5 separate regions of the Homo sapiens genome follow, and regions 1, 2, 3 and 4 are each linked to region 5. The links come from fine-mapping of genetic effects on gene expression. A gene starts in region 5. Each other region holds a variant in brackets. All regions are shown on one strand. Distances are between the middles of the regions. Region 1 overlaps PPM1L (protein phosphatase, Mg2+/Mn2+ dependent 1L). Region 2 overlaps LOC105374187 (a long non-coding RNA gene). Region 3 holds the start of LOC124906300 (a long non-coding RNA gene). Region 4 overlaps LOC124906300 (a long non-coding RNA gene). Region 5 holds the start of B3GALNT1 (beta-1,3-N-acetylgalactosaminyltransferase 1 (Globoside blood group)).

Evidence for each region. PIP is the estimated chance that this variant, and not a neighbour inherited with it, causes the effect. A credible set is the group of variants that fine-mapping cannot tell apart.
Region 1: its variant is the best candidate, but not a certain one, in a credible set for the expression of B3GALNT1 in tibial artery (GTEx, PIP 0.50).
Region 2: its variant is the best candidate, but not a certain one, in a credible set for the expression of B3GALNT1 in whole blood (TOPMed, PIP 0.73).
Region 3: its variant is the best candidate, but not a certain one, in a credible set for the expression of B3GALNT1 in T cells (TOPMed, PIP 0.54).
Region 4: its variant is the best candidate, but not a certain one, in a credible set for the expression of B3GALNT1 in CD4 T cells (CEDAR, PIP 0.84).

Annotation. Positions count from the first base shown.
Region 1 is chr3:161,074,458-161,080,805 of GRCh38, forward strand. PPM1L (protein phosphatase, Mg2+/Mn2+ dependent 1L) reads left to right here. Exons shown (of 4, transcript NM_139245.4): 4 at 1-4,445. Among named protein-coding and RNA genes, the nearest start is that of B3GALNT1, 28 kb to the right of the region's middle. The variant A/C (reference allele first, on the strand shown) is at 3,296.
Region 2 is chr3:161,277,696-161,283,252 of GRCh38, forward strand. All of the region lies in intron 1 of LOC105374187 (a long non-coding RNA gene), which reads left to right. Among named protein-coding and RNA genes, the nearest start is that of NMD3, 59 kb to the left of the region's middle. The variant G/A (reference allele first, on the strand shown) is at 2,436.
Region 3 is chr3:161,144,931-161,149,930 of GRCh38, forward strand. LOC124906300 (a long non-coding RNA gene) reads left to right here and starts at 2,182. Exons shown (of 3, transcript XR_007096148.1): 1 at 2,182-5,000. The variant T/C (reference allele first, on the strand shown) is at 2,147.
Region 4 is chr3:161,157,143-161,162,142 of GRCh38, forward strand. All of the region lies in intron 1 of LOC124906300 (a long non-coding RNA gene), which reads left to right. Among named protein-coding and RNA genes, the nearest start is that of B3GALNT1, 54 kb to the left of the region's middle. The variant A/AT (reference allele first, on the strand shown) is at 1,957.
Region 5 is chr3:161,103,230-161,108,229 of GRCh38, forward strand. B3GALNT1 (beta-1,3-N-acetylgalactosaminyltransferase 1 (Globoside blood group)) reads right to left here and starts at 2,120. Exons shown (of 5, transcript NM_003781.4): 1 at 2,006-2,120; 2 at 1,090-1,177; 3 at 198-288. It overlaps LOC124909453 (a long non-coding RNA gene), which reads left to right and starts at 1,452. Exons shown (of 2, transcript XR_007096147.1): 1 at 1,452-1,656; 2 at 3,342-5,000. RefSeq lists silencers at 1,675-1,924, 1,935-2,024.

The DNA of each region.
Region 1 (6,348 bases), 28 kb before region 5:
CCAATATTTAGGAATAGCTCATCCTCTGCACATTATCCAAAATATTTTAAAAAACTAAAAGTAAGATCTCTTAGGCTAGGTGGCGGATTGCAAAGGGCAGGGGGCAGTTGATACCATGAAGCTTCCAATAGATGCATTTCTAAACATTTTTTCTAATATGTAAATTTGCTGATCCTTAGTAATGTTAATGCTTTGTCTATTTGTTATTTTTACCACTGTTGAACAGCAAACTGTTGAGGCTAGGGTTGATTATTGATAATTTTTATGTGTTTAGTAATAACCACAGCATCATACGTACAACTGCTTTAATAAATCCAAGTTAAGGACTTTGAGGAGAGCATGTAGCAAGTATTCATTTTAACAAATCATCACAGACAGTTTCCCTGTTCAAAGCTCCACCAAAAAGCAAGCATGCAGCAAAGGCATAGACTGTATTTAGAGATGTGGTTTCATTTATTCTTGAAGTCCTATAACCTTGCATTATTTAAACACAAAATCCCACCTAACATTTGCCAAATCCAAGTTAATCTCAAAAACCTCCGAGGACATTGAGCACAAGCAGATTACTGTAAGGGCACTGGTGGCAGATTGTGGTGGAGAGAGGGCTGAGTGACCCAGAGCAAAGCCTGCCCGGGTTACTCGCTGCCACTTCAGGAGAGGGATTGTATCAGCTCTCATTACCTTTTGTCATGAGGCAGTTCATAAATTAAATATGATATCATGCATTATCTCAAAATATTTCTATATTAATTAGATAATTCACGATGTAAAACGTGTTCATGCAGAAGCAAAGGCGGATGTAATAGTCAAGTATCAGGGAAAAACCCCTTTAGGATACCCAGACATTAAAAATGTAAAAAGTAGCTTATAAGAAATGTGGATTATCAGATTTTTACTATATATAGGTTGTGTTTAATAGTAATTTCTGACACCTGCACATAGATGAAGAAAAGGCAGTTGTTACCACTTTTCACCATTCAAAAAATGGGCTTGTCTCTTAGAGTATTGGTTAATGCTTTGCTTATTTGTTAATGAAGACAGCATTTTAATTTTAAAGCTTCCTTTTGTAGGACTGATGGCACGGGCAGAATCACATTTAAGAAAAATGGTTTGGAACACTTTTTAATAAAAAATTGTAAAATCAGTTTCCAGTGTGGTCAAAATTAGAATGTAAAGGAAAGCATTTTTAAGAAAATACAGAAGCCCAAATCAAGGGAGAGTAATATAAAAGGAAATATTTTAAATTAAGAAAAGGAGGTGTTATAGTTTATTACATCATGAATTATGCTTTCTGTACTTACGCTCTTAGTGAAGGAGATAACATTGAAGTGAGAAAATGAACATTCTCAGTTATTTGCGAAGTTAGTAAAATTGCAGTCCCTATTCCATTTTTTTCTGATGAAAATGGATACATGAGATCTCATTTATTGCTCTCCTCAACACCTTTACTGTCCCAGATTCCATTCACGTTCCAAATCGTGGACAGTAAAACTGAAGTCAGATAAACACAGTCACAGGTACAACTGGGAGCGAGTTTTAACATAGTGGTAATTTTGCAAATGCCAACATGAATACTAGTGAGTACTCAATTTACGACAGACAATTTCACAAAAACCAACCACAGAGTGATTTGATATTCTTGCTTCTTAGAGAGTTTTCTAATCCATATAATGCAATGGGTCAGGTTGCTCATATGATTAAAAAAATTAATCCTGTAGAAATGATGTATTAGACATCTCTAACCCAAGAAAAAGATGTCTTTTGTATAACTTTTAAATTCCCATTTGTCTATCTTAGGACAAATGATGACTTCTTCGTGTAGTAATGAAAACGTCTAAATCCTGCTCTGTGGAGAAAAGCTAGAACCATGGGACATTAAGCAAGAATACTCCTCTGATTTAGGCTCCCAGACTACAACTAACAGTCTTTATGTATTTATCATCTTGGTTATTGTTTTATCTCAAGCATATACAGTGTGCAGAAAGTAGAATAATGAATAAAATATGACCATGGAGAAAACCCATAACTTTTGCTTCTATTATAGAAAGCAGTGTTTGTTCTTTTTAATTTATTACATGTTCACATTGAAACATTAACATCTACAATATTGTCTTTCAGTTTACTCTTCAATTACTAAAGCAAATGATTTTGATTTATAGCACTTACACAACTGCAGTTCAGGTCACAGAATTGAAATCTATTTGATAATGTCTCAGCATTCTCATGGGCAGCCAGGAAAAAAAAAAAGAGAGAGAAAGACAAATAGAAATTTTAGTGGGTTCAGATAAATGATTATTCTGACAAACCTGGAAAATAGTAATTAAACAGTTCATTCCAAAAGACCCCAATGTAAACTCTGCTCACATACATAATTTGTATAAGGAAAATGTATGAGTTTTTTTCTTAAAAATAAATAGAAGCATCATTGCATTTATAACAGATTGATCAATCTTATGAACAGATTACATTGGGAAAGTCACTATTATTGCTGTGTGTTTGTATATTTTATTCTTTCCTTTTTTGTGTGAGCATCTACTATGTGCCAGGCAGTGACTGTGTCTGAGTGAATGTATCCATGGTGAGCACTCAGGCGCCATCACTGCCTTCTTGGGGCTTACACCCTATTGGGGTGTCAGAGATATTATAACACTCAATATTGACCCAATGGGATGAAAATTGTTATCTTCATGATTTCTTCCAATGGGCTTAGATTTGTTGGGACAGGGCAGAATTAGAATAATTATTTCTCACATATAAGAGTAAGTGATATGAGATTGGGAATTTCTTGCCAACACTCAAGCAAACTGCAGAAGATAATTACTCCATTTTACTAGCTCACCTAGTTTCTGAAGGATGGGGTGGGGAGTGAGACATGGAGCCTCTGGGGACAAGGATAGGGGGGTGGGACTGTCCCAGTGGAGGGTGCCACTGGAAGCCTCCACCCAAGTGGGCCAGCAGCTGTGCAAGGGTGCAGCAGTAGGCTGGTGAAAGCCAGGTTGTCCAGATCTTTCTAGGGGAAGAGAAGGATTATAGAAAAGGAGAAAAGGGAGGAGCAAGAACATCTCTCCATGGCCTATTTTTATTTTTGTTCCCAAGAGACTAGTGTAATAACCTTATGCCCCCAAAGACAGCCCAGAACTGAGTATCTTCAGTGTTCCTGAGTGTAAATCAGTGAATCTGTTATATAGAAAGTTAACATTTCAGGAGCACAATTATTTCCTGATTTCAAATATGAACAGAAGACTAAATGTCATTTTTTTAAATCATAAATTTGGTATCCATAGTTACTTTACAC[A/C]TTCCAGAGTCTAAGCATGGAATTTAAGTTTTGTATTTTGAACAAAAATAGCAACATCTGTTTTCTGTATGGCAAAGAAAAACTAAATCCCAGACTTTTATTTTTAACCACAGAAACCATCACTTCTTTCTAAATTATTTGCTTGCCTGCTCATTTCCCCTAAACATCTCTGTTTATGCCAATGGCTTTTTAAATCCAAATAATACTAGTTATTGCCAAATTGCATTAGAATCCTATTGAATTAGAATAATTCATATACTTCATATACTAGGCAGTAAATGGTTAGAGACGGTAAAGATCTGATTGTGATCAAAAGTAGGGTTTTTGTTTTGTTTTTAATCATGAGCACATATAAAAGGAAATTCAAATGAAACCAAGCCAATTTCTGATTTAGTAAGATTAAAACCATAGATGGAGCTCAGTTATTAAGGATGGAAAGGAGGAAAGCACAGAGTGAGGAGAGAAAAAGGGGAAGGAAAAAAAGTAGTGTTTTTTTGGGGAACAGTATAATGTCTCAGAAGTTCTTCTCTCTTATCCTGCTGATGTTGAGACAGTGGCTTTGTATAAGCTTTTATTTATACCTATTTCAACATCATGAAAATTTTTCCATCAGCATTTTCTTGCAACTTTAAAAATCACAAGGGATTATTTGTTTATAAAGAGATACAGGATCTATAATTTATTGGCAATACTTTATTTTAGGAATCTTCAAATTGTACTTAATAAATAAATCACAGGTCAAAATGACTGTAAAATCAATCAGGCTTTCTCGTAAGTTATTTCCTGAAAACCATCCATGATAAATACAACAAGGCTTGGCGAAACCTCATTACTCTTGGAAGTCTTCAGAGGTTATTATACCTACTGATCTGTATTTGTCTCTAAGAGACATTTGAAACACAGTTACAATGTCAATTTGGTGTAACATTACCTGTAGTAGAGCTCAGAGTATATGGCAGTGCACGGTCACTCAAGATGCATGGCGTGTCATTTGGGTCGCTTTGATGGGTGCTCGGGTAGAATTAGCCTTGTAGAGACTAATGTGTTCATGCTATCTCTGATCCTGTGGTGTTGTATAAAAATGAACAGCTAAAAATTTACCCATGACAAGATTAAAGCAAAAATAAACACAAAGTTGTTAGACTTTAAACATGAGACTGCTGGTATTCTTTTAAGTTAAACTCATTTTCCATTCTAACATCTGTTCTTGAATTTTATAATTTCTCTATGCTTTTGAGTTGGAGTAGCTTGAGCTAGGGTTCTATGTGGAAAGCAAAGAAACAATTCATGGGTAGAGGATAAGACCAAAGCCTAACAGAAGCAAGAGGCAGGAGGTTTTGAGACTTTGGTGCTTTCATTTGGAATGGGAATAAGCCTGGCTCTGGTTCAAAACAAGGCAATTTATAAACATATATACAATGTATGCAACAAAAAATGTTTATTGTAAACCTAACACAACTTTTACCCAGCTTTATAGTAACACATCGACAAAGTTTATATAGTAATTACTATAAGGTAACAAGGGTTACATTATACACAGATGTAGGCTCCAGCAACACAGCATGATGCACCTCTGAGAAAAGTGTTCAGAACAGAATATCCATCTGCAAAGGTTTTCACTCAATGCAGGAAGAAATACTGTAAAATTTGGAGACAGAATGAAATAGAGGTAAACTCTCTCCAGGATTCTAGACTCTGAAGAGTGGGTAGTACTCATGGCTTAGGCCATATTGTAGTAACACGGTGACTTGGACTAACCATGTAGATGGAGTTCGTGGATTAGACAATTCTCAGAATTTTCTAGAAAAAGTTGGGGCCAGACATAGTGGCTCTCACCTGTAATACCTATACTTTGGGAGGCCAAAGCAGAAGGATCACTTGAGCTCAGGAGTTTGAGACCAGCCTGGTCAACACAGTGAGACCCCATCTCTTAAAAAGAATAATTTTTTTTAAAAAAAAAGGGGAAAGAAAAGGAGTTTGTTACGCAGACGAAACAATTGCCTACTCTACCTGCTTTCAAATTCAAGTCTGATAAATATAAAAGTTCATTTCTACCTATAAAATGCTTTTTTAAAAAATTATCTTGTTTATATGCTAAGGTTCACTAAAGGAGAAAAAAAAGGAAGTGCAAAAGTTTTAAAGGTACATATAAAAAGGGATTCACTACAAAAGTGAAGTTAAATTTCTCTCCTAATCCTACTATTCATTGAGCTATGAGATAGAGTGAACTATCACTTGATTTGTGAACACCAAATTAACCTCTACCTATAGTTTTTCAACTGTTCTTCTCCTGAAACCGTGAAAGACTTTTTAAAATAAATCAATCACAGCAGCCTTGAGGGATGGGAGAACTGCAAGATCTGTGTCCAGAGAAACAGTCATTGCAATGTGAATTTACCAGAAGTCAGAAATTTTCCACCTTTTCATTTGTGAAGAGGGCAGAGTGAATGTTGTTAACATCAGGCCCAGAACCTACTTTGTGCCAGGTTCATAAAGTAAACCTTCCCTGATGCTGTTCAGTGAGTAAGCAGTAAAAGGCAAGCAAATGTGACCCTGTCCTCTCTCCTCGTTCAAATGGGAAGACCTGGCTCCATATTGTGATGGCTTCATTAGTGAGAGATGTGTACACTCTTCAGGTTTGTAACCAGGATGCTGTGCCCCTTTCCGTGCTCCCAGCAGATAGGAATTCAGACTCTGCTGCCTGAAATGGAAGGTAATCACCTATTGAGGAGCAAGGAAGAGAGGAACAGAAGGCATTTTTTAATTTCCGCTATCCCCAATCCATCAGTGTGGGCTGCTCACTCAGGCTGGGATCCATTCTCCAACAAGATGCATCCCAGAGCATGGAGCTCCTGTGTCACGGACAAGCTGCTTTCTATCTGCCTCATAGGAAATTGGGTTTATCTCTTCACTTCGGCCCCGCTCATCATTGGCGCTGACCCTCAGGAAGAGGAAAACTGTTTCGTATGTTCCTAAACTTTGGATGCCCTCAGCTGTAACAGACCACTGCACCCACCATGGTGGTGAACTCACATATGCAGGGGCAAGAAGTC
Region 2 (5,557 bases), 170 kb after region 5:
CAGGTTAGTTAACCTCTAGTGATGTTGACTCAAAGCCTTTGTCATTTAATATATGCTGAATAAATTCCAGCAGGGCCAGTTAATCAGGGTCTCGGCTGCTACAACTCTTTTGGTCAGTGGCCTCACCCCCTAAGCCCACTCTTTCACTGAATATCAGTGTCTGAGTACGTTATTCATCTGTTGTGCAGCTGGGGTCTGTGAGATGGACCCTGGCAGAGATCTGGACATCCAAATACAAGAAGCCGAAAGAACACTTGGGAAGTTCATCACAAAAAGATCATTACCTAGGCACATAGTCATCGGATTATCTAAAGTAAAAACGAAGGAAACAGTCATAAGAGCTGTGAGGCAAAAGCATCAGGTAACCTATAAAGGAAAACCTATCAGATTAACAGCAGATTTCTCAGCAGGAACCCTCCAAGCTAGAAGGGATTGTGTTCCTATCTTTAGCCTCCTTAAACAAAACAATTATCAGCCAAGAATTTTGTATCCAGCAAAACTAAGCCTCATAAATGAAGGAAAGATACAGTCCTTTTCAGGCAAAAAAATGCTGAGAGAATTTGCCACTACCAAGCCGGCACTACAAGAACTGTTAAAAGGAGCTCTACATCTCTACATCTTGAAACAAATCCTCAAAATACACCAAAATAGAATGTTCTTAGAGGATAATTGTCACATGACCTATAAAACAATAACACTATTACAAAAAAAAAGGTATTCGGGCAACCGCTAGCACCATGAATAGAATAGTACCTCATCTCAAGACTAATGCTGGATGGAAATTGCCTAAATGCTCCACTTTTTTTTGAGACAGAGTTTCGCTCTTGTTGCCCAGGCTGGAGTGCAATGGCACGATCTCAGCTCACTGCAACCTCCACCTCCCTGGCTCACGTGATTCTCCTGCCTCTGCCTCCCAAGTAGCTGGGATTACAGGCATGTACCACCACGCCTGGCTAATTTTGTATTTTTAGAAGAGACGGGGTTTCTCCATGTTAGGCTGGTCTCAAACTCCTGATGTCAGGTGATCTGCCCACCTCGGCCTCCCAAAGTGCTGGGATTACAGGCGTCAGCCACCGCACCTGGCCAAATGCTCCATTTAAAAGATATAGAATGGCAGAATGGATAAGAATTCACCAATTAAGTATCTGCTATGTTCAAGACACTCTCCTAACACACAAGGACTCACATAAACTTAAGGTAAAGAGGTGGGAATAGACATTCCATGCAAATGAACACCAAAAGTGAACAGGAGTAGCTATTCTTATATCAGACAAAACAGATTTTAAAGTGACAATATCTCAAAAAGACAAAGAGGGTCATTATGTAATGATAAGAGTCTAGTCCAATAGGAATATATGACAATCCTAAATATATATGCACCTAACACTGGAGCTCCCAAATTTATAAAACAATTACTACTAGACCTAAGAAATGAGATAGATGGCAACTCAATAATAGTGGGGAACTTTAATACTCTACTGACAGTACTAGACAGGTAATCAAGACAGAAGGTCAACAAAGAAACAACAGACTTAAACTATACTCTAGAACCAATGGACTTAACAGATATTTACAGAATATTCTACCCAGCAACTGCAGAATATACATTCTGTTTATAAGCACATGGAACATTCTCCAAGATAGACCATATGATAGGCCACAAGAAAAGTCTCAATAAATTTAAGGAAATTGAAATTATATGAAGTACTTTCTCAGACCACAGTGGAATAAAATTGAAAATCAACTCTGAAAGGAACCTGCAAAACCATGCAAATATATGGAAATTAAATAATTTGCTCCTGAATGATCATTGGGTCAACAATGAAATCAAGATGGAAATTAAGAAGTTTCTTTGAATTAAACGATAATAGTGATACAACCTATTAAAACCTTGGGGATACAGCAAAAGCAGTGATAAGAGGAAAATTCATAGCATTAAATGCCTACATCAAAAAGTCTGAAAGAGCGCAAATGGGCAATCCAAGGTCACACCTCAAGGAACTAGAGAAACAAGAATAAATCAAACCCAAACCCAGAAGAAGAGAAGAAATAACAAAGATCAGAGCAAAACTAAATGAAATTGAAACAAAAAACAAATACAAAAGGTAAATGAAACAAAAAGCTAGTTCTTTGAAAAGATAAACAAAATTGATAGACCATTACAAGATTAACCAAGAAAAGAGAAGATCCAAATAAACTCAATTAGAAACAAAATGGAAGCTATTACAACTGATACCACAGAAATACAAAAGATCATACAAGGCTACTATGAACTCCTTTATGCACACAAACTAGGAAACCTAGAGGAGATTGATAAACTCCTAGAAAAATACAACCCTTCTAGATTAAACCAGGAAGAAATAGAAACTCTAAAACTCTGTTTAGAGTTGAAAAAAAATTCGCAAAGTTTTTTTTTTTTTAATTTTTTGAGACAC[G/A]GTCTTGCTGTGTCATCCAGGCTGGAGTGAAGTGGCACAGCCTGGCTCACTGCAATGTCCGCATCCCAAGTTCAAATGATTCTCATGCCTCAGCCTTCCAAGTAGCTGGGATTGCAGGTGCATACCACCATGCCCTGCTAATTTTTGTATTTTTAGTAGAGATGGGGTTTCACCATGTTGGCCAGGCTGGTCTCAAACTCCTGACCTCAGGTGATTTGCCTGCCTTGGCCTTCCAAAGTGCTGGGATTACGGGCATGAGCCACTGCACCTGGCCATGCCAACAATTTAATTTTTTTTTCAAGATGGAGTCTTGCTCTGTCGCCCAGACTGGAGTGCAATGGTGTGATCTCAGTTCACTGCAACCTCTGCCTCTTGGGTTGAAGTGATTCTTCTGCCTCAGCCTCCTGAGTAGCTGGGATTACAGTCACATGCCACCACGCCCGGCGAATTTTTTGTATTTTTAGTAGATATGGAGTTTCACTATGTTGGCCAGGCTGGTCTCGAACTTCTGACCTCGTGATCCACCTGCCTTGACGTCCCATAGTGCTGGGATTACAGGTGTGAGCCTGGCTGACAACAAGTTTTTTAGCGAAAATTTGCCTAAAATTTTTTAGTAAAAAATTTTTTTGCAGCAAGATTGAAATGGCAATTAAAAAAACACCAAAAAGAAAAAAAGTCCAGGATTAGCAGATTCATAGCTGAATTCTATCAGACATTCAAAGAAGAATCAGTACCAATCTTGTTGACACTATTCCAAAAGATAAAGAGGGAATCTTCCCCAAATCAAACTAGGAAGCCAGTATCACCCTAATAGCAAAACGATGAAAGGACATAACCAAAAAAGAAAACTACAGACCAATATTCCTGATGAACATAGATGCAAAAAATCTCGACAAAATACTAGCTAACCAAATCCAACAGCATAAAGATAATCTACCATGATCAAGTGGATTTCATACAAGGCATGCAGGGATGGTTTAACATATGCAAGCCAATGAATGTGATACACCACATAAACAGAATTAAAAACAAAAATTACATGATCATTTCAATAGATGCAGAAAAAGCATTTGACAAAATCCAGCATCCCTTTATGATTAAAAACCTTAGCAAAATCGGCATAGAAAGGGCACACCTTAAAGTAATAAAAACCACCTATGACAAACCCACAGCCAACATTATACTGAATGGGGAAGAGTTGAGTGCATTCCCCCTGAGAATTAGAACAAGACAAGGATGCTCACTTTCACTGCTTCTATTTAACATAGTACTGGAAGTCCTAGCCAGAGAAATCAGACCAAAGGAAGAAATAAAGGGCATCCAAATCAGTAAAGAGGAAATCTAACTGTCGCTGTTCATAGATGATAAGATCGTATACATAGAAAACCCAAAGGACTCATCCAAAAAGCTTCTGGAACTGATAGACGAATTCAGTAAAGTTTCGGGATACAAAATCAATGTACATAAATCAGTAGCACTGCTATACACCAATAGCGACCAAGCTGAGAAACAAATCAAGAACTCAACCCCTTTTGTAATAGCTGCAAAAACAAACAAACAAACAAAGAAAAAAAAAACCTAGGCATATACCTAACCAAGGAAGTGAAAGATCTGTATAAGGTAAACTGCAAAACACTGCTGAAAGAAATCGTAGATTACACAAACAAGTGGAAACACATCCCATGCTCGTGAATGGGTAGAGTCAATATTATGAAAATGACCATACTGCCAAAAGCAATTTACAAATTCAATGCAATTTCCATGAAAATACCATCATCATTCTTCACAAAACTAGAAAACACAATCTTAAAGTTCATATGGACCAAAAAAGACCTGCATAGCCAAAGGAAGACTAAGCAAAAAGAACAAATCTGGAGGCATCACATTATCCAACTTCAAACTATACTTATAAGGCTATAGTCACCAAAACAGCATAAGTACTGACATAAAAATAGGCACATAGACCAATTAAACAGACTAGAGAATCCATAAATAAAGCCAAATACTTACGGCCAACTGATCTTCAACAAAGCAAACAAAAACATAAATTGGGGGAAGGACACCGTGTATTAGTCAGGGTTCTCTAGAGGGACAGAACTAACAGTATATATGTACATATGAAAGAGAGTTTATTAAGGAGAGTTGACTCACATCATCACAAGGTGAAGTCCCACTATAGGCTGTCTACGAGTTGAGAAGCTAGGAAGCCACTCCGAGTCCCAAAGCCTCAAAAGTAAGGAAGCTGACAGTGCAGCCTTCAGTCTGTGGCTGAAGGCCGAAGAGCCCCTGGCAAACCACTGGTGTAAGTCCAAAAGTCCAAAAGCTGAAGAACTTGGAGTCTGATGTACAAGGGCAGGAAGCATCCAGCAAGGGAGAAAGGTGAAAATTGGAAGACTCAGCAAGTCTGTTCATTCCACCTTCTTCTGCCTGCTTTATCTTGCTGTGCAGGCAGCCGGGGGGATGGTGCCCATCCAGATTAAGGGTGAGTCTGCCTCTCCCAGTCCACTGACTCAAATGTTAATCTCCTCTAGCAACACCCTCACAGACACACCCAGAAACAACTTTGCATCCTTCAATCCAATCAAGTTGACACTTAATATTAACCAACACAACACGCTATTCAACAAATAGTGTTGGGATAATTGGCAAGCTACGTGTAGAGGAATGAAATTGGATCCTCATATCTCACCTTATACAAAATTCAACTCAGGATGCATCAAAGACTCAAATCTAAGACCTGAAACCATAAAAATTCTAGAAGATAATGTCAGAAAAACCCTTCTAGACATGGGCTTAGGCAAAGAGTTAATGACCAAGAACCCAAAAGCAAATGCAACAAAAACAAAGATAAATTGATGTGACTTAATTAAACTAAAAACCTTCTGCACAGCAAAAGAAATAATCAGCATAGTAAACAGACAACCTACAGAGTGGGGGAAAATCTTTGCAAACTATGCATCTGACAAAGGACTAATATCCAGAATCTACAAGGAACTCAAACAAATCAGCAAGAAAAAAAGCAAACAATCCCATCAAAAAGTAGGCTAAGGACATGAATAGACAATTCTCAAAAGAAGATATACAATGGCCAACAAACATGTACAAAATGCTCAACATCACTA
Region 3 (5,000 bases), 42 kb after region 5:
ACAGTTTTACGTGCAAGGTGTGTAAAGAAAGTAGAATGTGTCTTTGGTAAAAAAAAAATTATAAGAAAGCATAAGAATGTGCATTTTTTTCCTGCCTAGTTTATAGGGTTAAATGATTGTTTTAGGTTAGATAGAATAAAGCTGAAATTTTGAGCAAGTTGTAGAAGGTTCGTGAAAGATTAATCTTGTAAAAGAAATCCCTGGCTGGGCACAGTGGCTCACACCTGTAATCCCAACATTTTGGGAGGCTGAAGTGGGATGATTGCTTGAGCCCTGGAGTTTGAAACCAGCCTGGCAACATAGCAAGACTCTCATCTCTATTAAAAAAAAAAAAAAAAAAAGAGGAAGAAGAAGTAGAAGAAATTCTGTGTGTGAACATATTGCCTAGAGTTTAAGGGATATTCAGTTTTTCTGTAAATTGAATATTGGAATAAAAGCACAACAGGGTTTTCGTTGGAGCATTAATCTGCTCATTAACAAAAAAATTTGAAGGATTATAAAAGGTTTGTGTTTGCTGGGCGCAGTGGCTCACGCCTGTAATCCCAGCACTTTGGGAGGCTGAGGTGGGTGGATCACGAGGTCAGAAGATCGAGACCATCCTGGCTAACACGGTCAAACCCCGTCTCTACTAAAAATACAAAAAATTAGCCAGGTGTGGCGGCACATGCCTGTAGTCCCAGCTACTCGGGAGGCTGAGGCAGGAGAATGGCGTGAACCCAGGAGGTGGAGCTTGCAGTGAGCCGAGGTCGCGCCACTGCACTCCAGCCTGGGTGACAGAGCGAGACTCCGTCTCAAAAAATAAATAAATAAAAATAAAAGGTTTGTGAGAATGTTACCTAATGGTCAAACTATTTAAAATTGAATAGATTTGCCTATAAGGCTTTATTAAGAATTGGGTTTGACATTAATAGTACACTAATGCAAAGGTGAAATTTGGCTTTCTCTCTTGAACAATATTTTCATGTAATGTTGAGAGATAATACAAAATTTGTGTTTGCCTTTTGAATAAACTACAGGAAAATGAAGGGAGAGAAAAGAGACAAATTGTTTGGAAAGCTAAGGCTTCCTTCTATCAATGAGTAAAGGGTTTTGCCTTTGTTTTTGTTTGTTTTTTTTTTTTTTTTTTTTTGAGATGGAGACGCTCTGTCGCCCAGGCTGGAGTGCAGTGGCGCAGTCTCGGCTCACTGCAAGCTCCGCCTCCTGGGTTCACGCCATTCTCCTGCCTCAGCCTCCTGAGTAGCTGGGACTACAGGCTCCTGCCACCACGCCTGGCTGATTTTTTGTATTTTTAGTGGAGACTGGGTTTCACTGTGTTGGCCAAGATGGATTAGATCTCCTGACCTTGTGATCCGCCCGCCTCAGCCTCCCAAACTGCTGGGATTACAGGTGTGAGCCACCGTGCCTGGCCAGGGTTTTGCCTTTAAAAAATCTTTGAGTTATTATTTTGTCTAAATAAATGACTTGAGATTCTATTTTTTAATGTCAAGTGTTTTAAACCTTTGATATTTAACAAACATCCCAAAATCAAATTCTAAATATAGTCATTTTGTGACCTGATTAATCCTTCTAGATATTAGTTCCCAAAAGTCCAAAAATGATGTATTTTGCTTATTTGATATATTAAGGTCACACAGAAAGCATAGTCAAATATAAAATAATATTTGTCTTTCTTTGGGCTGTATTTGTATAAATGTATTATTGGTATGTGTTCCAAAATTATGCAAAACTCCTATAATTCTAATATGATTTAGTGTACATTATCAGTAATAAAATAATAATTGTTATGCTAAATTATTGTGTGCCACAGAAGTAACCAAATTTTTTCATCAATTGTGTCTTTGACTGTGGCTGCCCTAAGACTCTTAGTCATCCGTAGACAATTGTCTTGTTTTAATCCTTTTCAAAAGGCAGTTTATCATCAGCTGTAGGACTCTGATGAGTACTCTTAAATGCAGGTCTCTGATAAGTATGAAAAATGTGCCATTAAAATATAGAGAAAAAAACCTTCCAAGACTCTCTTGGAAAATGAATGTATTCATAAATATCAAGCAAAACAGGAATTAATTGCATAGACTGAACTAATAAAAGACAAAATTATCTTTTTATGACTTTTTGTTTAAAACATTGCTGATTCTGTTTTGTTTTT[T/C]AGAGTCAAGAAAATTTTTCTTTTGATCTATTTATAGCTTTTGACAATTGAGTAAAGTATAATCCAATTAAGAGCATATTTCTTTCTCTCTACCCAATTCCTCCAAAATTTATGAGTATTCATTTGTAAACCAAAAAGTATCTGAGGCAAGTCTCAATCAACTTAGAAGTTCATTTTGCCAAGGTTAAGGACATGCCCATGTACGGCCTTTGGTGCTCAAGGTGGTCAGGCTACAACTTGGTTTTATGCATTTTAGGGAAACGTAAGACATCAATCAATACAAGTAAGATGTACATTGGTTTGCTTCAGAAGGGCAGGACAACCAGAAGCAGGAGTTTCCAGGTAATAGGCAGATTTAAATATTTCCGAATTGGCAGTTGGTTGAGTTACTGTCTAAAGACCTGGAATCAATAGAAAGGAATGTCTGAGTTACAATAAGGGGTTGTGGAGACAAAGGTTTTATCATGTGGACGAAACCTCCAGGTAGCATGCTTCAGAGAGAATAGATTGTAAATGTTTCCTATTAGACTTAATTAGTCTCTTCTACGAGTCTTAAGGTCTATGTTGATATTAATGATAATGAGGCAAGTCTGACTCCCACTTCCCATCATGGCGTGAACTAGTTTTTCAGGTTAACATTGGAATGCCCTTGGCTGAGAGGAGGGGTCAGTTCAGATGGTTGAGGGACTTATCATTTTATTTTTGGTTTACACTTAACTTATCAAGTGCAATAAGAATCTGTTTTCTTTTATAAGAGGACACAATTGGAGACACTGGTTAGTTTACCAAGGCTTTGACTAGAAGGCCATGCCTTCAAATATGAACAGACTGCTATAAGGATTCAAAGTTGACTTATAGGGCCAATAAAAGACTCTGGGGAAAAACTGGCCTCATATCTTGTCTATACAGTCCCTGTACAGGGTTCCTGACCTGTGGTAAGTAAAGAATGTCACTTTCTTACTGGCCCAGGAGCCCCAAGTTATCTTGGGACCTCAAGAAGAGAGAAATTGACCTAACCCATACGGGTATTTTCAAGCACAAATCCATGGCTAGACTCAAGGTTTTGAAAGGTCTATCTGAGATTTTGTATGAAACAAAGTTTCATCAAAGGCAATTTAAAAAGGAGCCTATATGGCAAATAATTATTCTTGTTGCACTTTATGAAAATAATCAGGTCAAGTATAATATGACTAAAGGTTATTTTGCAAACAAATCAGTCCTACCTTGATTTGTTTTTAATAAAAATGATGACTGGAAAGAGATAAATTATGTTTCAAAAACTGTGGTACACCTGTTGTTAAATTCTAGTCTTGTCCATTGTTTTTGTGTATTTTTCTGAAATGTAGACTGACCCTGCTTATTCCTTTGATCTCTGCCAGCTGCGTAGAAGAAACGAGGGATGGGTAATGTAAAAATCTGTATCAGTATTCTAACTCTGAGCATATATTGAAATTGGCTAGCAACCCCATATCAGCTTGGTGCCCAATTCATGGAAAGCCTTCTCATTTAGTTTACTTGGGATACTTATTTTATTTACTGTTGTTGAGTATATTGCTGTCGTACTCTTTAAGTAAGAATGCAAGATAAGCTTACTCAACATTTTCTATAATTGAACACTTATTGTCTTCCAGATATTTCCTTTTGTCAGGACCCAGAGTTATGAATGGCCATCACTATACTGATGCTTCCTGACTGAGCTCCTTTCTACCCTAAATACAAGAGAACCTAAGAGTTAGGCAGGAATATTATCACCTCTACACAGCCCAAAGAAGCTATAGAAAAATGAATTTTTGTCCTTCTGCAACTCTTAGGATTAAGTATCCCCTTGGAAAAGGGAGGGGAGAATATGTCAGTGGTGTTTAATCCAGAGCAACCCCTTCTTGAATAGGGGATGGGTAAAATACGGCTGAGACCTGCTGGACTGCCTTTCTATGAGGTTAGGCATTCTTAGTCAAAGGATATTTGTGGTTAAGGGAACAGATTAATAATGTTTACTGAACAGACCCAGGACTTAACAGACCCAGGAAATGTCCTGATGTTACAATATCTTAAGAACAAAAGCATTCTTAGTTTAAGAATAAGTTTTGCTTTAAAATAATAATATACATTCTTGTGGAAGACAGTAGTTACACAAAGATTAACCATTCTTTGTCACAAGCCCTTGTAGTAGAGTATATCTCATCATTTTTTGTTTTATTATCTTGTAAACAAGCATTGTACCTAAAGTGGACATGTTCTTCCTCTTGCTTTCAGGACTGCCCCGCTCTATCTATGGAGTAGCTATACTTCTATTCCTTTACTTTCTTAATAAACTTGCTTATACTTTACTCTGTGGACTCACCCTGAATTCTTTCTTGCGTGAGAGCCAAGAACCTTCTTTCGGGGTCTGGATCAGGACCCCTTTCTGGAAACAAAATGAGTAGTACTTTTTTTTTTTTTACAGCTTTATTGAAGTATAATTGATATAAAATAAAAAACTGTGCATGTTTAGTATGTACAATTTGGTGAGTCTGACATTTGCATGTGCATGTGGTTTTGGAGAGGGATGAAAATGGGTGGTAGGGCAAAGGTTTCTATTCACCCAGCTCACTTTATTTATTTTTCTTACCCTCCTAGATACTGTAGATATTTCAGTTTGTGGTCCCTGCTGTTGAGCAATCTGAGCTCTGTGAGATATGCAGATAATGTCTCCAGAGAGCCATTAGCATGGGTCTTCAGCCATGCCTCCCCATCCATGCCACGAGGGAATTGTTTAAAGTCATTTTGTTCCTGATTAGCTGCCTCACTCATTATCTTCCTGTTCCTGGAATTTGTGGCACAAAGAACAATGTATAGCCAATCAGTAGCTAATACT
Region 4 (5,000 bases), 54 kb after region 5:
CGGAAGAAGCCAGAAACCAACTTTTTATTTGAGAACTGTCAAATGAAAGAAAACAATCAAGCATTTGTCCTGCCGTTTCTATGTAAACTGTGCCACCAAGATACCAAATAGTAGGTGAGGTAAAGTTTCTCTTGATGTAAGTAGTCCATCAAATTACTGAAGAAGAAAATTTGAATATCAACATCTTTTGCAATCCTAGTGAATTACTGGATCTAAACATTGAGAATCAATGGCAGATAGCATTACAAAAGGGCAAAAGAAACCAGGCTGGGCTTGGTGGCTCACGACTATAATCCCAGCACTTTAGGAGGCAGAAGTGGGAGCAGAGGATGACTTGAGCCCAGGAGTTCAAGATCAGCCTGGGCAACTAAGCAAGACACTGTCTCTTTAAAAAAAAATTTACCTGGAAAAACATAAACCCACCTATGAAGTAGTATTGGCAAAAATCATCATCATCATCATCATTATTATCATCCCTAAATGTGATTCAGCCTGGAGATCCAGAAGAGTGCTTTATGTTGCAGCATGCAATCCAAATTACTGAGCACTCTCTTTTGGTGTTGAAAAAGCCAACTGCTTCTATATCTCAGAGTGAAGCAATTTTAAGTATTTGGTGACTGTGAAGCAGTAGCCTTGTTGAAGAATGTGCCCCAACTCTTTTTTTTAGTATATTCTCTTAAGAGTATTTAACTAGAAAATGGGAACAAACTCACCAGCAAAGATTAGATTAAGGGTGTTATCTTCTAAATGGTCTGAAGGTAGCTATAGGCAAGAGGGATGTAGAATGGAGAGACCAGTATGTAAATGATAAGCATATATGTTAAAAATTGTGTCCTCTGGCCAGGCTCAGTGGCTCATGCCTTTAACCCTAGCACTTTGGGAGGATCGCTTGAGGCCAGGAGTGCAAGACCAGCCTGGTCAACATAGTGAGACCCCATCTCTATTTTTAAAAAAATGAAAAAGAATCTCTCTATACATAAAATTGTGTCCTCTACTCTTCAGCCCCAGAATCTTAACAAAAAATTATGTATGGATTGAGTGAGCTCTGTGTTCAGAGGTGCTAGAGGATGCAGCCCCTCCCCTAACTTCCAAGCATCTCCCCCTACCTGCCCTGCATGTTTCTGCCCTAGTGATTCATTCTGGAAACTGCATCCTCTCCAAAGCCATGGAAGGTGTGCCTTCCTCACACTGTGTCCCTAAATAATTTTTTCTTTTAAATAAAGGAAAGAAACATTTTTTAAAAATGTCTAGATAAAGACTTTGGTTATGGTTTTTACAGTAGACCAGAAATTTTTGGACAGATACCATACCAAACATTTCTACATTCTGTAAAGCAGCAGTTTATGAACTTCAACCCTTAAAATAATCCCAGGCTCCAAATCTGCACCAGCAAGAAGTCAGTTGCAAGAGTTGTGCACCCTAAGGAAGGGCATACTCCCAAATTACACCTCAAATGTAATATTGGAAGACAACAGACCCGGCAAATCCTTTTGGCCTGATTTATGAATTTTTAAAATTCAGATATTTGATTTATCTTAAATTTGTTTTGGCAAAGGGAATGAGGTTGTTTCAACTCCATCTATTGATTATTTTCTCCCTAATTTTTGAAATACAAGCTTTATAATATATTAAAATCTCATATGATTTGGGTCTATTTCTGGACTTCATTCTTTCATTGATCTATTTATTAATATAAAACTACATTTTAAAAAATGATACTATGAGGCCACTGCATTATTGCATGATATAGAAGGAACTACTGAAAACCTTTGTCTCTGGAATTTCAAAAATCAGGGAGCTTCAAGGAATAGGAGACCTTCCTTCTGGTATTCAGCCATTAAGGTGACTAAGCTTTACCAACTCATGTTCTGGCAGATGTTTATTCCAAGATTTCAAATTCCTTGGAAGATGGTTGGCTCAGCTTAGGCCAGGTATCAATTTCAGAATCATTTATCT[A/AT]TTTTTTTTGGGGGGGGACAAGTGAATATGACTTCCAGGTGCTGAACCCTATATTTCAAAGAAACATAGTGTTGTGAGCTGAATGGTACTCCAAAAACTGTCTGCTTCACTATGCTCACCCACCCTTCTCATACACCTGAAGCTTCCCTATCTCTGCATGGTGCACCTTTCCCATACACAATTGCAGCTACCCCTTCCAATAGGAGAGGTTGCAAACTCCTGCTTCTGTATTGATCTAGAAGCAATGTCATAAGACTATACAGCTCTAAGCCAAGGATTTCCTACAGCATGCTTACTCTTCTAGTTCTGTCAAAATTTCTTTATATATTCTTCAATCCATGAACTAACTGGAAAATTTAATCATCATTAACACGTCCTAAATAACAGTGATTTTCTTTTTTTTTTTTTTTTTTTTTTTTTGAGACGGAGTCTTGCTCTGTCGCCCAGGCTGGAGTGCAGTGGCGCGATCTCGGCTCACTGCAAGCTCCGCCTCCCGGGTTCACGCCATTCTCCTGCCTCAGCCTCCCGCGTAGCTGGGACTACAGGCGCCCGCCACCACGCCCGGCTAATTTTTTGTATTTTTTTTTTAGTAGAGATGGGGTTTCACCGCGTTAGCCAGGATGGTCTCGATCTCCTGACCTCGTGATCCGCCCGCCTCGGCCTCCCAAAGTGCTGGGATTACAGACGTGAGCCACCGCGCCCGGCCAACAGTGATTTTCAAACTGGGATATGAGTACATTTACGGATGCATAAAAATGTTCCAAGGGCTACACTAGCCTGGGAACTTTTAAAGGAATCAATGTCCAGACCCCCAGCTTCAATATGGAGCCTTTCTTTCTTAAAATTGATCTGCCTGCTCTGGGTTTGAGTTAGAGGACTCTTGCCTTTCTCTGCGTTCTCATCTCCTCTTTCAAAACAGACTTTCCAAGTATACCTCTCCCCCATCCTGGATCTTACTGTGGTGCTTTACCAGAGTGTAAAACCTCAGGAGAACCAAACAACAAACTATCTTAGGTTATTGGTGTTGGGGAAGATTTCTTTAATCAAGATGCCATAAACACATGGGAAAACTTGGTGTCTTTCACTGTCTTATATATATTTCAGTTGAGGGTAAAGCATAGTATTAAAAATAATCTATTCTGAATTCAGATGTATTAGGAACTGGAGCAGCAAGATAAATGACAACTTTCATTCAACAATTTAGTCTCTTCCATTCCCTGACTCTTGTCAAAGAAGTATTTCTTCTGTGGGAAGTTCTCTTGAATGCACAGCAAAGATTATAGGCAGAATATGGAGACTCTGGTACGTTATCTTACCTAGGTGACAAACCCATAACAAAGTTCTGGGCCTAGTCTAACTTGAATACTCAAAGATTTGAAGAGACCAAGTTGGGAAATAACCATTTGCTAAGAAGAAATCTTTCTCTAATTGTACACCACTCTTGGTTAGCTTGGTGGCTACTTCCACTCCTTTGTGTCTTTGTGTGTTTCTTTTGCACGTTTTTCAAAATTTCAAGAGAAAGGAAGCAAAAAAGTTTCATGTTTACTTTTAAGAGATCCATGTTATATCGTCAAAGAAAAGGAACATATATTGAGGGTGAGTTAGTGTTTTCTCTTAACCATTTATTTAGACTGGTAGTAGAATCCTTTTTTGAGGTCTTTTAACAAAAAGCTATTGCTTATTCCAAATCCGTATTTATTTTTACTTGGAGCTAAGTCTACTGCTGACTGTGACTCATTAACCACTTCTCTGCTTATTTGTTTATTTATCATAAAATGTACTAATTAGATATATATTAACTAACTGGGCTATATTTTGAATTTTATAGCAGTAATGCACTTAGCAGTCACTGAAACACTCTTTAGATCTGCTTTGCTGGGGCCCAACACTTTCTTTTATTTTGTTGTTAATTTGCACAAAATAGAATGTTAATTTGTATAAAATTAAACTGTAGTCTTAGAAGCCATAGTTATGATAAATGTTCCCCAAATGCAATCAGGACGTAATGACCCAAATTAAATGTTTTTTATTCGATTAAGTTTAGCTCTTCTTTTGCAGATGATGACTTGCCTTTCTAATTCTGTCAAATGCATAATTACAATCTTGTTTTCAGCTGTTAAATGAAATTGCATATAGATAAATAGAATGAATATACACCTATACACATATATTTTTTCAGTATCCGTCTTCTTGTCCATCTGTTATCTTTTTAAGACACTGAGTCTATCAAATATTGAAATTTAGTATGAATATTTCTGCAGTCAATAGTTTAAAAATTATAATGTGAAATTTCCAATTTTATGGGGTTATTTTAAAATCATTTATGTACAATTTTAGCTTGAAACATAAGATACTTCTAAATAAAATAAGTGTAATTGGTAGTTATTTGATAAATATTGGTTAAGCTTTTTAGGTGTATCTTCCAGAAATTGTCTATCTAATAATTGGGTTTAAACATTTCTTTCCAAGTCAGAAAAATATCGCAAGTAAAATATTTATTGCAAAAATATCTTACTTGCAATAAAATTGAAGGAGGACCTAATAGTGTTGTCAACGATCAGATTCTTAAAAATATTTTTGGTGAAGGATTACCACTGTAATTTTTCCTAACTTCGACCGGCACTGGTCCCAGCGCCCAGGCCATCTCCCAGCGGTGGCAACATGAAGCCAGGCGGCTAGGGCGGAGGTGGCGGCCCTGATGGCGGCGAGCTGGTGGCCAACATGCTCCCAGTCGCTGGCGGCGGTGCCTGCTCCTGACCTGGGCTCCACTCCCACCCCGTGCGCCAAGCGCAGCCACCGCCGCCCACAAAAGGATTTTTCAAATGTTTTTTTCGCGGGGAAAGAAGTTTGAAGACTACTGCAATAAACAACAACAGAGAAAAAGGAAGAGGAAAGAGTATAAAGATTTTTGCTTATATCATGTGAATTATTAAAAAGAATGAAGGGAAGGGGAAATTATTCAATCTTCTGGCCCTCCGCGTACATACGAGGCAGAAGTCTGACATCTGAAGAAGATAAAGTGAGGCTAAGTACCTTCTCTTTAA
Region 5 (5,000 bases):
AAAAAATATATTATCCAAAATGGCTTAGTAGAGCTTCACTCTTGAATTTCTTCAAATCCTCTGATGAAAGAATCGTACTAGAATATACAACAAACTTCGTGGCTGCATCAACGATACTTAAAACCTTGTAAAGGGCATTATTATGGGCATTTTTAACCAATTAGGATAATTTATAAGTTAAAAGTAGATGAACTTACCTGTGGAATTCCAGATGAAATTAAAGCTTAAGTTTTTTGTTGTTTTCTGTATTCCATGCTTAATTAAAACACTCAGATCTGTTGTGAACTACTGAACAGAAGAACAGAAAAAAATATATATGAGTCATAACATTAGGAATTATGACATCTAAAATCAATGTTGTATACTTAGCAAGTTGTTTTTGGAGCCATTTATTACATATCAACACTTTTTTCATTTTTGGAAAAGCCTTGATCCTCTCTTCTCGCTTTCAAATCACCTCATGCTCTAATCTGAAATTATACTTGGACACTGTTTTTTTGTTTTTTGTTTGTTTTGGAGATGGAGTCTCACTCTGTTGCCCAGGCTGGAGTGCAATGGCACAATCTCGGCTCACTGCAACCTCTGCCTCCCGGGTTCGAGCAATTCTCCTGCCTCAGCCCCCCGAGGAACTGGGATTTCAGGTGTGTGCCACCACACCCAGCTAATTTTGTATATTTAGTAGAGACGGGGTTTCACCACGTTGGCCAAGCCGATCTCGAACTCCCGACCTGAGGTGATCTGCCCGCCTCGGCCTCCCAAAGTGCTGGAATTACTGGCGTGAGCCACCGCGCCCGGCCTGGATGCTGTTTTGACAACAGTGTTTATTTTCAGGTCTGGAGTTATCCAATGGCCATTCATTTGAACGAACATTTTAGTCTATGAGGGGAAAAAAGTCATAGTCTCTTATCTGTTAGTAATAAACGATTCTGTTCTCCAGACTGATACGCGTTCAGTAATTTGTGCTTTTATCAGGCATCGACACATGCATACTAAGAGCACAAATTCAGCGCCCTTCTTTTGCTTAAGCCTCCTGGGAGAAGCTAAAAAACTTGTTCCCAGTTGAACACTGCAAACCCAAATTTTCCTTACCTCTGAAAACAGAAAAAAAGACATGGTTTGGCAATTTCTTCCTTGATAGCTTTTCCCACAACGCAGCCACCTCCTAAACGCAGGCAATCTGTGCAAAACGCAGAGGAAACAAAATCATGAAAGCCCTGCAAATCTCCCTCCTAAATCCAACATTAAGAAGGCGAACGGATACTGAATTCAAAGACTACCCGTACTTGAGGATGGCATCATTCCTTACTGCTTGGAAAAGTGAGACTCCGTTGCACCTCTAGGAATCTTTTTAAAACGCCCTGTATGTTCCTTAACACTGCCTGTAGGAATCCTGTAGCCCTAGCCCCGTGGGATTTCCTTCTCTCTCCGCCCGTTCTCCACATTCCCCACTTAGTTTCACATTCCTTCCCAATCCCTCCGACATCCCTGCGCCGGGGCCCTTCCCTAGCGCTCCGGGAAAGCGTTCGCCGCAGGCCTGTTAGGGGCCCACCAATACCGTAACACCGTTCCCGTCCTCTTCCTCGGCACCGCTGCAAACGCCCCGGGTCGCTACCCGGATTTGACGGTGGCTGGAGCGGCACGGGCGACGCAAGGCAGGTATTGCACCCTGGGGCAAGGCAAGGTGGACAACCAGCGGATGCGGCGCGGCCGCGGCCTGGGCCTGGGCCCTCCGCGTCGCCCACTGCCCCACTGGGCCCCTTCTCCCGCGCTCACCGGAGGCGGGCAGCTGCTCGTCACCGAGACCCGAGACCCACGGTGCGGCGGCTCAACCTGGGCCACGCTCCGCTCTAGAGGAGTGGGCGGTGCCTCCCGGCCTAGCTGCCGGGGTCTAGGCGTTTCCGAGGACGGCGCGTTCCGGGAAAGGCGGGTCCGGTGGCTATACCCTCCACCCAGTGGCAGGACTCAACCGCCTCGGAGACCCTGCAGGGCCGCCCTTCTCACTCACCTCCTGTGCTCGGCGCGCACCCAGCTCGGAAGCGGGAAGGTGGCCGGCGTTCTCTCCCTGCGCACACACGCAGCCTCCCCGCATCCGCACGCACGGCCGGGCGCGCGCAGACCACGCGCCAGGGCCGCGGCCGGAAGCCCCTGGCTGCACGCGCGGGCCCAGGCGGCCCCCAGCCCTGTGAGCTCGCATGGCGCGCCCTCTGGGTCCTCGCGGTCACCTTGCATTCCGAGCACGGCCGTGTTATGTATGCCTTTAGTTGATGCTGGCCAAAATTAGACAACTTAGTGGCAGACGTCGAGCTAGAATTTTTGTTTGAGATCCTTTTTCCCTGGTCGTCTTTCCAAACTGCGTGAGTGCATGGCCTCGAGGCGGCCCTGGAGGGATTTTCTTGTTAAACTTCATACAGAACTAATTAGGAAAGAGGAAATCTTAGGAGGAGTTCTTTGCTGTCTCAGAAGAAATGCCAGTTCTTCTTCCGGAATCGATGGGGAATGGAATGGGGGTAAGAGAGACACGTCAGGTTTCAATGGCCTGTGTATGGATGGGAGTCCCAGGGAGTTGCTTTTGTACACCTGAGCATAGCTGACCTAAACTCCCAGATCCATCTCCTCAAACTCCTTTTACCAAGATGTGCAGTATTGATTGTACTGGTCCTTTCCTCAAAATCAAGTGGGTCTGGATCATGTATTTAACCACTACCAAGCTCAGCCATGAGCACCACCCCTGATTGTAACCCACACATTTGCATCAAGACTAAACGTGGCCCACCATTTCTTTTTGTTTACTGACTCTTTGGCCTGACTGCTTCTTCCTTATAGCCTTTTTCTGCAAAATTACTTAGGATAGTTTGAAGGTTCTCTGAAAATAATAGGGGTGAATATAGAGATCAAAATGGATATACAACAAAAGTAAGTTTAGATAGTAGCAGTGTAAGTCAAGGACTTAGTTGACACTGCATAAATAATCAGATCTAAATTATAATAATCAGATCTAAATTATGGTTGAGATTGTTTTCCTGGTTCCAGCCTTGGCAGGTAGCTGTGTCCTTTGCAGAGGGTAAAGTGATTGCTGCCCTGCTGCACGCCTTTATCACAGCCATTCTTCACCCTACCTGGGCTGACAGTTCACCTCACTAAGTCAAGGAGGTCCATTAATAACAAAACCAGACAGGTTTCACTGCAGATAGATTAATATGCTGAAAAAATAGACCTCTTATTTGGAAGAATGCTTTAGGGCATTAATACTATATTTTACAAATTCCGTTTCTTAAAATTTTAGAAAAGTTGTATTTCAATACTCATTTTTAAAATGTTTTGAATGTCCTTTGAGTAACCAGCAGGTATATGTGCTCATAGCTGCCAAAACTTCCCTGGAATGCAAAGCAGAGCCATGGACAACAGATTGGGGTAAGAAATTCTCCTAAATGAAGTAAGTGAGACAAAAAGGCCCAAAACCTTTATGAGATTATTTCCTTTGAAGCAGTCTCCTTTTTCTTTGTGTAGCATTTATCAGCTTGTGATTGAGTCATCTATTGCTGCAGATCGAACTCTCCCAAAATATAGTTGCTTGCAAAAATGTCAATTTAATATTTCTCATAATTCTGAAGGTTGGTTATGTGGTTCCTCTCTGGTTTTGATTTGGCTCACTCGTATAGATACATTCAGCTGTAGCAGGGGTTGGCCAAGTTTTCTGTAAAACAGGATCAGATAGTAAATATTTTAGACTTTGTCTCTGTCACATATTCTTTTTTATTTAATTTTTATAAACTATTAAAAACCCAAAGCTATTCATAGCTCAAGGGCCATACAGAAGCAGGCTATGGCCTACAGGCTGTAGTTTGCTGATCCCTGAACTGGAGAATCAGCTAAGCTGAAAGTCCAAGGTGGCCTCACTCATGTGTCTGCTGTTGGCTCCATGTGGCCTCTTATCCTGCAGTAGGCTATGTTTTTGGTCTGTGGGCAACATCCAGAAGAGAGCAGGCAGAAGCTGTAAAATTTCTTAAGGCCTAGACTTGGGAGTCACACAAGATCATATATGCCAAATTCTACAAATCAAAGCAAATTGTGAGGCCTCTCCAAATCCAAGGGGCAGGCAAATAGTCTCTGCCTCTTGATGGAAGGAGCTGCAGATAATGTGGCCAGAACTAGCTAAACTAAGTGGCAGGAACCTTATTCTTGAAAGTAAATCATCAAACTTCAAATTTATGATATCTGATGGCAGCTATTGTTCTTACTCACTTCTCTCCCCAAACTACCCAAACCTGTTTATAATTCTGTGAGCACTCACTTGCCTCAGAACTTGTTTACAGATGTCTCTGCCATGAGATTATCAGCAACCTGAGGGAAGAGACAGGCCCTACCGCACTGCCTTGCTGTAATATATCTTCAATAGATATATATGGAATTTAGCTGAATAGCCTTACTGAGGTTTAAAGTCAGGTTATTTGCTTACTTCACAAAAGCAAAATAAATTTAAGTATCCTGCACTATCTACAAATTCCAGAAGAAAAGCACACATCAAAGAGTTATATGTCACACTCACATACCATCTGACCAATAAGATGGAAACCTTCCTAGCAATTTTCCGAACATATAATCAAGAGTTAGGAAGCCATATGCCTAATGATAAGTTTGAACTAGCAGTCACCTTTAAGGCTATATTACATTTTAACCTTAAATTTGTCTGCAGATGAAAATTGAAATGTAACAACAGTTCTTTCGTAATATGTGCTATATATGTTTCAAGGCAGATGTGGTTCTGGGCAGGGTTTCTAATCTACAGGAAATGCTTCTACTAATTGTTCAGTTGAATTTTTCAATATGTGCCTTCTCCAAAATCTGACTGTGACTGTCTTCTTCCACTTGATGGAAAGCTTTGACAATTTATTATGCTTAGAAGCAGCTGGGGTGTATTTCTAATTGATGATTTGTTATATTTCTTACTTGACTATCCACATCTTTCATTCTCTTCAGCATTTTCCTCCAGCACTTCCTGT